Linked DNA regions of Homo sapiens. The protein of the gene in region 1 purifies or fractionates together with the protein of each later gene. This does not show direct contact. Each region holds a gene or a part of one and is shown in the gene's direction. Other genes may lie near its edges. The genes, in order: PADI3 and RRAS2.

The links.
Region 2: the proteins of PADI3 (region 1) and RRAS2 purify together in Homo sapiens (affinity purification with mass spectrometry; one large-scale study listed by BioGRID and IntAct). This does not show direct contact.

What each region holds. Positions count from the first base shown.
Region 1 is NC_000001.11:17,265,864-17,269,681, forward strand, and holds part of PADI3 (protein-arginine deiminase type-3), read left to right. Parts: intron 1-203; exon of another isoform or gene 204-433; intron 434-855; coding exon 856-973; intron 974-1,973; coding exon 1,974-2,099; intron 2,100-3,818. UniProt on the Homo sapiens protein: Catalyzes the deimination of arginine residues of proteins.
Region 2 is NC_000011.10:14,352,632-14,356,449, reverse strand, and holds part of RRAS2 (ras-related protein R-Ras2), read left to right. Parts: intron 1-3,818. UniProt on the Homo sapiens protein: GTP-binding protein with GTPase activity, involved in the regulation of MAPK signaling pathway and thereby controlling multiple cellular processes. Regulates craniofacial development.

The sequences.
Region 1 (3,818 bases):
TGGCTGGGGATCTTCTTTCACCAGGAGAAAAATCATCGCCAGGAATTATCAGGCATGGAGGTACCCAGCCCTGAGCTAGGCCTTGGTTTGTGGGATCAAGACCTTCTGGACTCATAAACTAGGTCAGGAGTGGGCAAACTTTTTCCGTGAAAAGTCACATAGCAAGTATTTTAGGCTTTGTGGGACATATGGTCTCAATTCTGCCACTATAGTGTGAAAGCAGCCACAGTTAATACAGAAATGGATGGATGTGACTGTGTGCTAATAAAACTTTATTTATACAAACAGGCAGTAGGCCAGATTTGGCCCACAGTTCATAATGTGCTGATCCTGACCTAGGCGAGAAGAGAAACCAAATATGAAACTGTTGAAGAACTTGGGACTGAATTATGTTGGAACTTGGTGCCCTGGGAGTTAAGAGGAGAAGGTCGAGGTGGGCTGGGTGGGTGAGGAAGGCTTCCTGGAGGGACGTACCCTTGAGCTGAGCTCTGAAGGGGTGCAGGAGGGAGGACGTTCCAGGTGCAGGGAATGGCAGGAGCAAAACCAAGGAGGGTTTAATGGAGGAATGAGCACAGAGTGAGGCGTGTGGTCCTATAATCAGGTTGCCTATTGAGAAAGAGGATGTTGGCTGAAGGCCCATCACAGATAGCCATGAAAGACAGCTCTGTGCTTTGGACTGGATGGTGTGGGCAACAGAGAGCCATTGCCATTGACATGTCTTGAGAAGGAGGTGCTTCGAGAACGTGGACCTAGCCTCACAGGGTTGGGTGGTTACAGGCCAGGCTCGGGTTCCTGGGTAGGGAGGCACAGGTCTCATCTGAGCCCTCATCACTGGCTATGTTTTGTCATTGGCAGCGGCAGTGGGTCTGGGGGCCCAGTGGGTATGGCGGCATCTTGCTGGTGAACTGTGACCGTGATGATCCGAGCTGTGATGTCCAGGACAATTGTGACCAGCACGTGCACTGCCTGCAAGGTGAGGCCGGGGCAGCCTGAGTCCCTGGGTGTCCAGGGTCACTGCTCAGTTACCCCATGGGAGTTCCAACCCACAGGCGAGACTCTGAGGCCAGAGTCCAGGGGAGAGCGCCAGCCTCCAGACACACCTCGATGCTCCTCAAAACCCATCTCAGGCTGGCAGCTGCCCCTCCCTAGTGTCTCTAGGGCCAGTGAGCACTCACATGCCAGGGCAGAAGCTCTGGAAATGAGCCACCTCGCCATTCTCTTCCTCCAGGGGAGCAGAGGATGCTAGCATTATTTGAGCACCTACTGTGTGCCAGGCCTTTTCCCCAAATTCTCATTGAATCATCCAAGTGGGACAATATCATCACCCCAATTTAGAGATGAGGATGCTGAGACTCAGAAGCCAGGAGACTCCCTGAAGACTGTGTCTGATCTGGGGCCTCCCCTCTCAACCCCAAATCTGGGCCTCCTCCTTCAGCACCTCTGGCCTACATTTCTGTGACTCCCCCACCTCTTGCTAAGTCCATCTGTCCTGAATTCCAGCCCCATGGAGAATGAGCTGCAATATTCCAGGGTATGCTAGGTGCTGTCCACGGGAGATGCCCACGGTTGCCTTCTGAAGTGGGCACCATTGGACATGGGGATGCTGGGGCTCCAGAAGGGAGGGGCTTGTCCAGGGTCACAGGGAGTGATGCTGGGATGGAGGCCAGAACCCTTACCTGCACGACGCCCACATGGCCTTACCCTCCTTGCTTCTCTGGAGCACCTGTTGTGTGTCAGACACCAGCTGGCTATGCCACACTTCATGTTTCTCTGGGCAATTGAGGAAACATGAGTCCAGGAGAGCATAGATGTCTTCATGGTTTGTTCTTGATGGCTTCCAGGGTTTTCACAAAGCTAGGGCTGGGAGACCCAGGTCTTGATACCCACTGACCTGGGGAGGGAGCTGGGCAGCAGAGGAAGGGGCCAGGGGCCAGGACTCCCTTGAGTCACTACCACTCTGTCTGGCTTCACAGACCTGGAAGACATGTCTGTCATGGTCCTGCGGACGCAGGGCCCTGCAGCCCTCTTTGATGACCACAAACTTGTCCTCCATACCTCCAGCTATGATGCCAAACGGGCACAGGTCTTCCACATCTGCGGTGAGTTTGTGCCACTGCCCCTTGCCATCTGTGCCCTGTTGCCAGGTTGCCTACCAGGGAACCTCCTGTTCCTGCCTTGGGCCATGGGCAGGTCCTGCTTACACTCCGGGAGATGCCCTGGTGGGTGGCGGGTCGCAGTAAGAACAGTCAGAAGTGGGGGCTTTGGAACTGATGAACTGGTGCCCCCAGCACAACACCTGGCCTGAGGTCATTTTATTTGATGAATGACCTTTTCAAATACATTTTAAGCATGTGTAGAAATTCTTATCAAAAATTTCAAACATACACAAAAAGCAGTGCTGTGAATCCCCATGTGCCTGTCACTCAGATTAAACAATTATCACTGTTTTGTCTGTCTCGCTGAAGTTTTGTAAAACCAACCCCAAACACCATAGATTTCACCCAATTAATTCAGTTTGTATTCCCCCCAAATATAGATGGCTGTTGTTTTACATAGTCTGCCAAAATCACAAGAAATACAAGTAAAAATCTAAATGCCTTTGAGAAACTAAAAATGTATACAAGTAATAAGATGCTTTTTTTTTTTTTTTTTTTTTTTTTTTGAGACAGAGTCTCGCTCTGTTGCTCAGGCTGGAGTACAGTGGCGTGACCTCGGGTCACTGCAACCTCCACCTCCTGGGTTCTGGCGATTCTCCTGCCTCAGCCTCCCAAGTAGCTGTGACTGCAGGCATGTGCCACCACACCCAGCTAATTTTTTGTATTTTTAGTAGAGACAGGGTTTCATTGTCTTAGCCAGGATGGTCTCAATCTCCTGACCTTGTGATCTGCCCGCCTCGGCCTCCCAAAGTGCTGGGATTATAGGCGTGAGCCACCGTGCCTGGCCGCTTATTTTTTAAATAATCAGACAATATGGAAGTATAGAAAATGAAACCTGAGAGTTCTCTACCCGTCTCTAAATCTGACTTTTTTTTTTTTTTTTTGAGTCAAGGTCTTGCTCTGTTGCCCGGGCTGGAGTGCAGTGGCATGATCTCAGCTCACTGCAGCCTCCACCTTTCAGGCTCAAGCAATCCTTCCACCTTAGCCTCACGAGTAGCTGGGACTACAGGCATGTACCACCACACCCTGCTAATTTTTTTTTTTTTGTAAAGACAGGGTTTCACCATGCTGCCCAGGCTGGTCGTGAACTCCTGGGCTCAAGCAATCCACCCGCTTTGGCCTCTCAAAGTACTAGGATTATAGGCGTGAGACGCCGCACCTGGCCTGAATCTGATTGTCACTGTTAACGAGTTGGGATGTGTGCTTCCCAACTTTATTCTACATGTTCTCCAGCGTGTGTCCATATGCTGCTTTCCAACCGGCTTCTTTCATTAAGTAATAATCCCACACACCTTTTCTGGTATTTATTGAGCTCTACTTCATTCTTTTCCACTGCTGTATAATATTCCTAAGCATAGAGGTGCTGTGACTTACACAGTTCTCTGAACATCATAGTGGTTTGCAGTGTTTTGATTTTATAACAATGCAGGTTGCTTGAGGTCAGGGGCTTTGTTCAAGTCCAGAACCGTGCCCCATGGGTGCACTGTAGTTGCACAGTAAATATTTGATGAATTAATGAATATCGAGCACTCTTGTACAGAAATATTATGTGACTTTGTACCTATTATTGTTTGTTTGTTGTTGTTGTTTTGTTTTTTGTTGGTTTTGGTTTTTTTTGAGATGGATTCTCGCTCCATGCCCAGGCTGGAGTGCAGTGGTGTG
Region 2 (3,818 bases), on another chromosome or scaffold:
ATGGTAGGTGTTATCAGTGTTTATGCCTACAGTTCTGTAACATGTTTAAATGCAAAGGGAATTCAGACTCAGAGAAGTCTGTGGAAAAAATTGATGAAAGCATTATGTAGGCTTGGTGGTGGGGAGAATGGAAATGTCATATGTGGGAGTCATATGCTAGTTTGGAGAGAGGAGGTGGCAAGTGGGGAAGTGGGATTGATAGTTGATTTGGGACCTGTGATCTGGTCTCTGCAAAAAGGAGCCTTTTTGGAGAGACAGGAACCCGACCACCTGGATGCAGTCTCAGCTCTACCACTTGCTGCATGTGTAATTTTAGGCAGGTTACTTAACTTCTCTGTACCTTAGTTTTCCCCATCTGTAAACTGGGGAAATATGGTGGACCACATATAGCTGTGAAATTAAATGAGTTAACATGTCAAGGGCTTAGAACAGTGTCTAGTACAGTCTGTAGTAAAGCTGCATACATTTTTATATTAATTTTAGATTATGGAGCTAAAGCGATTTTTTTATATTTACACTTAATAGGGTAGCTATTCATTGCCTGACTCCTGGAATGTTAAAATTCATTCCACCATGATTGTTTAGCAGTAGTAACTGGAGGGAGAGAACACAGCAGACTAATCATTTTAATAAGCAGAAGTCAGTTCTCTTGGTAGGAGATTAGAATGGCACAAATTGGACTTACTTTTTTAAGACTCCTGAAACACCAGACTGTTTTTACAATTTTCAGTATATATATTTTCTACTATGTGATTTTGAGCAGAAAAAAATATAAAATTGGGAACGGAGAATTTAAAAACAATGCCTTTTACCCTAACTTTCTTTGACTTAGATTTAGTTGTTACCTTCTGTTCATATGAAGAGTTGCAAAATTAGGGAACTAAGATAATTAAATTGAGATACCTTTTCCTTTTTAAAAATAAATATAACAAATCATAAAGTAGCCATGATAAAATGTAAAGTATTATGTTATTTAATGAATATGTGTGTGTACATTACCTCCTCCTTTCTGTTGCTCATATTTCTTTGAAAAATGTGTAAAGTTCTGTTGGTAGGTAGAACACCTAAATGTTAAGTAAACTCTAGGTAGGAAATGACTTCAGGATGGTACAGAGTGGTTAGGAGAGACTGCTGGGTGTGTGGGGTCTATGTCTCTCTACCCAGGTGACTTTGAGTAGTTTCTTAATCTGCCTTTATCTCGACTGAGCTTCTCTTTCTTCCCCATGAAATGTTGGGTTTGGTTGAACAAATTTCTGCACTTTTGAAATTCTAGGAGTGTTTTTTTTTTTTTATTCATTTAACTAGCTGTGTGTTTAGTCAAGTTTCTTAGGTTCTCTAAACCCAAGTTTCACCATTTGAGAAGGGAGAATAACATTAAATAATAGTACCCTTAGGGTTTTTGGAGTAAATAAAATAATGCAGGTAAATCATCCAGCACCGTGCCATCTACAGAGTAAGCAAATAAGAATTGTTGGCTGGGCGTGGTGGCTCACACCTGTAATCCCAGCATTTTGGGAGGCCAAGGTGGGTGGATCACTTGAGGTCAGGAGTTTGAGACCAGTCTGGCCAACATGGTGAAACCCCACCTCTACTAAAAATACAAAAATTAGCCGGGCGTGTTGGTGCGTGCTTGTAATCCCAGTTACTCGGGAGGCTGAGTCAAGAGAATCACTTGAACCTGGGAGGTGGAGGTCGCAGTGAGTCAAGGTTGCGCCACTGCACTCCAGCCTGGGCAGCAGAGTGAGACTCTTGTCTCAAAAAAAAAAAAAAAAAAAAAGAAATTGTTACTTGGTTTTATTTGCTGCTGTTAGTTCTGTATCTTGGTGTTCCTCCAAAACAAAATTTGTAATTTTTTCATTTTTCTTTGACACATAATCTGGTCTATTACTTTAAGTCTTCATTGCCCTCTCCTTCCTGGCTCAACCCTATACTCCCCTCCTTACTTCTGTGTGGTATTCAGGTGATGAATGTGGATTCCGTTTTGAGTTGGAGAAATTTCTTTTTGTCAGTTTGGATTTAATTTTAAGAAATAATGAGGTAAGCATTTAATTTTGGGGTTAGTGCTTTATCTGGTAACTCTGAGAAAAGGCCATATATGTTTTAAAAATTTACAGGGAGGTTTATATATTTTTTTTAGCATATTAACTTTTTATTCAACAATTTGCCAGATTTTGAGGTAGGTAGGGGTTAGCTGATTTCTCACGTCTTGAATTTCAGTCAGTCCTATGACCTGTTAGTCTGGACCCAGCATTGCTTTTTAAAAGTTTGTCTTTTGCTGAGTACTTTTTCATTGCTTTTTCCTGGGGCAGAGAGCCGAGAAGAGATTTCAGGAGATTTGTGTTAATAGTTAATTGATCCACATGTGAAGGTTGTGAGTTTAAATTCCCAATTTGCTGTTCCATTGCTACATCTCGAAGATTTTTCCTGCAATTAGAAACTACTTAAACTGTTAACTTTTATCTATTATTTTGAAACTAGACATTTTTAGTGTTTAAACTTTTTTAACATTAATGTACAAATGAATTGTTAGCATTGAGAAATAAGACACCTGCCCCCAAAGTGGTACCATACTAAAGGTTTTCTTGTTTGGGGAACAGTTGAAATGGTCCTGCAGGCAATTCCTAGATAAAATTTCTGTACACCCAAGGAAGAACATTTTCTTATAGAGGATGACTGCCTTTGGAGAAGAAGGAAATTTTAACCTGCAGTTTCTTAACTTACGTCTTATTCTTGTTTTGTTCATTCTCTTTCTCTTTGTGTCTGTCTCTGTGTGTGTGTGTTTGTGTGCATGCGTACCCCTGTTTTGGGATAAGGAAGTTGTAGGAATTGAGTGGGGACACTTTTTTTTTTTTTTTGAGACGAAGTTTCGCTCTTGTTCAGGCTAGAGTGCAGTGGTGCAATGGCGTGATCTTGGCTATCTGCAGCCTCCACATCCTAGGTTCAAGCGATTCTCCAGCCTCAGCCTCCCAAGTAGCTGGGATTATAGACAGGCATGTGCCACAACACTCAGCTAATTTTGTATTTTTAGTAGAGGTGGAGTTTCACCATGTTGGCCAGGGTGGTCATGAACTCCTGACCTCAGGTGATCCACCCGCCTGGGCCTGCACCATGCCTGGCCGAGTGGGAGCACTTTTGTTGAGTAGGTCAAGAATACTGCTTTCCCTTGGTAGATAACAGGCTACTGCTTACCGGGATGGGATTTTAATTCATCTGATTGCTGAAATATCATGGTCTTTCCTAAGCTTTGAATAAAAATAGTCTGCTCCATTCAGTTAGGAAAATAAATTGATAACTTTAAATTGGGGGAGTAGAGTGGGAAGAGACTTTCTTAAAGCTATTAAAAAAAATTTTAGCTGGGCACGGTGGCTCATGCCTGTAATCCCAGCACTTTGAGAGGCTGAGGCGGGCGGATCACTTGAAGTCAGGAGTTTGAGACCAGCGTGGCCAACATGGTGAAACCCTGTCTCTACTAAAAATACAAAAATTAGCTGGGTGTGGTGGCGGGCGCCTGCAATCCCAGCTACTACTCAGGAGCTGAGGCAGGAGAACTGCTTGAACCTGGGAGTCGGAGGGTTGTAGTGGGCGGAGATCATGCCACTGCACTCCAGCCTGGGCAACACAGCAAGACTATATCTCAAAAAAAAAAAATGTCTCTCTCTCTCTCTCTCCCTCTCTCTCTCTCTCTCTCTCTCTATATATATATATTTTAAAAGTTTCTTTTTCAAATTAAAGTTGGTCTTTAAAATTGAAACAGATTTTGTGATGCCACTTGACACGCCTTTTTTTCTGGTTGGGGAAAATGGTCTTTAGGATATTAA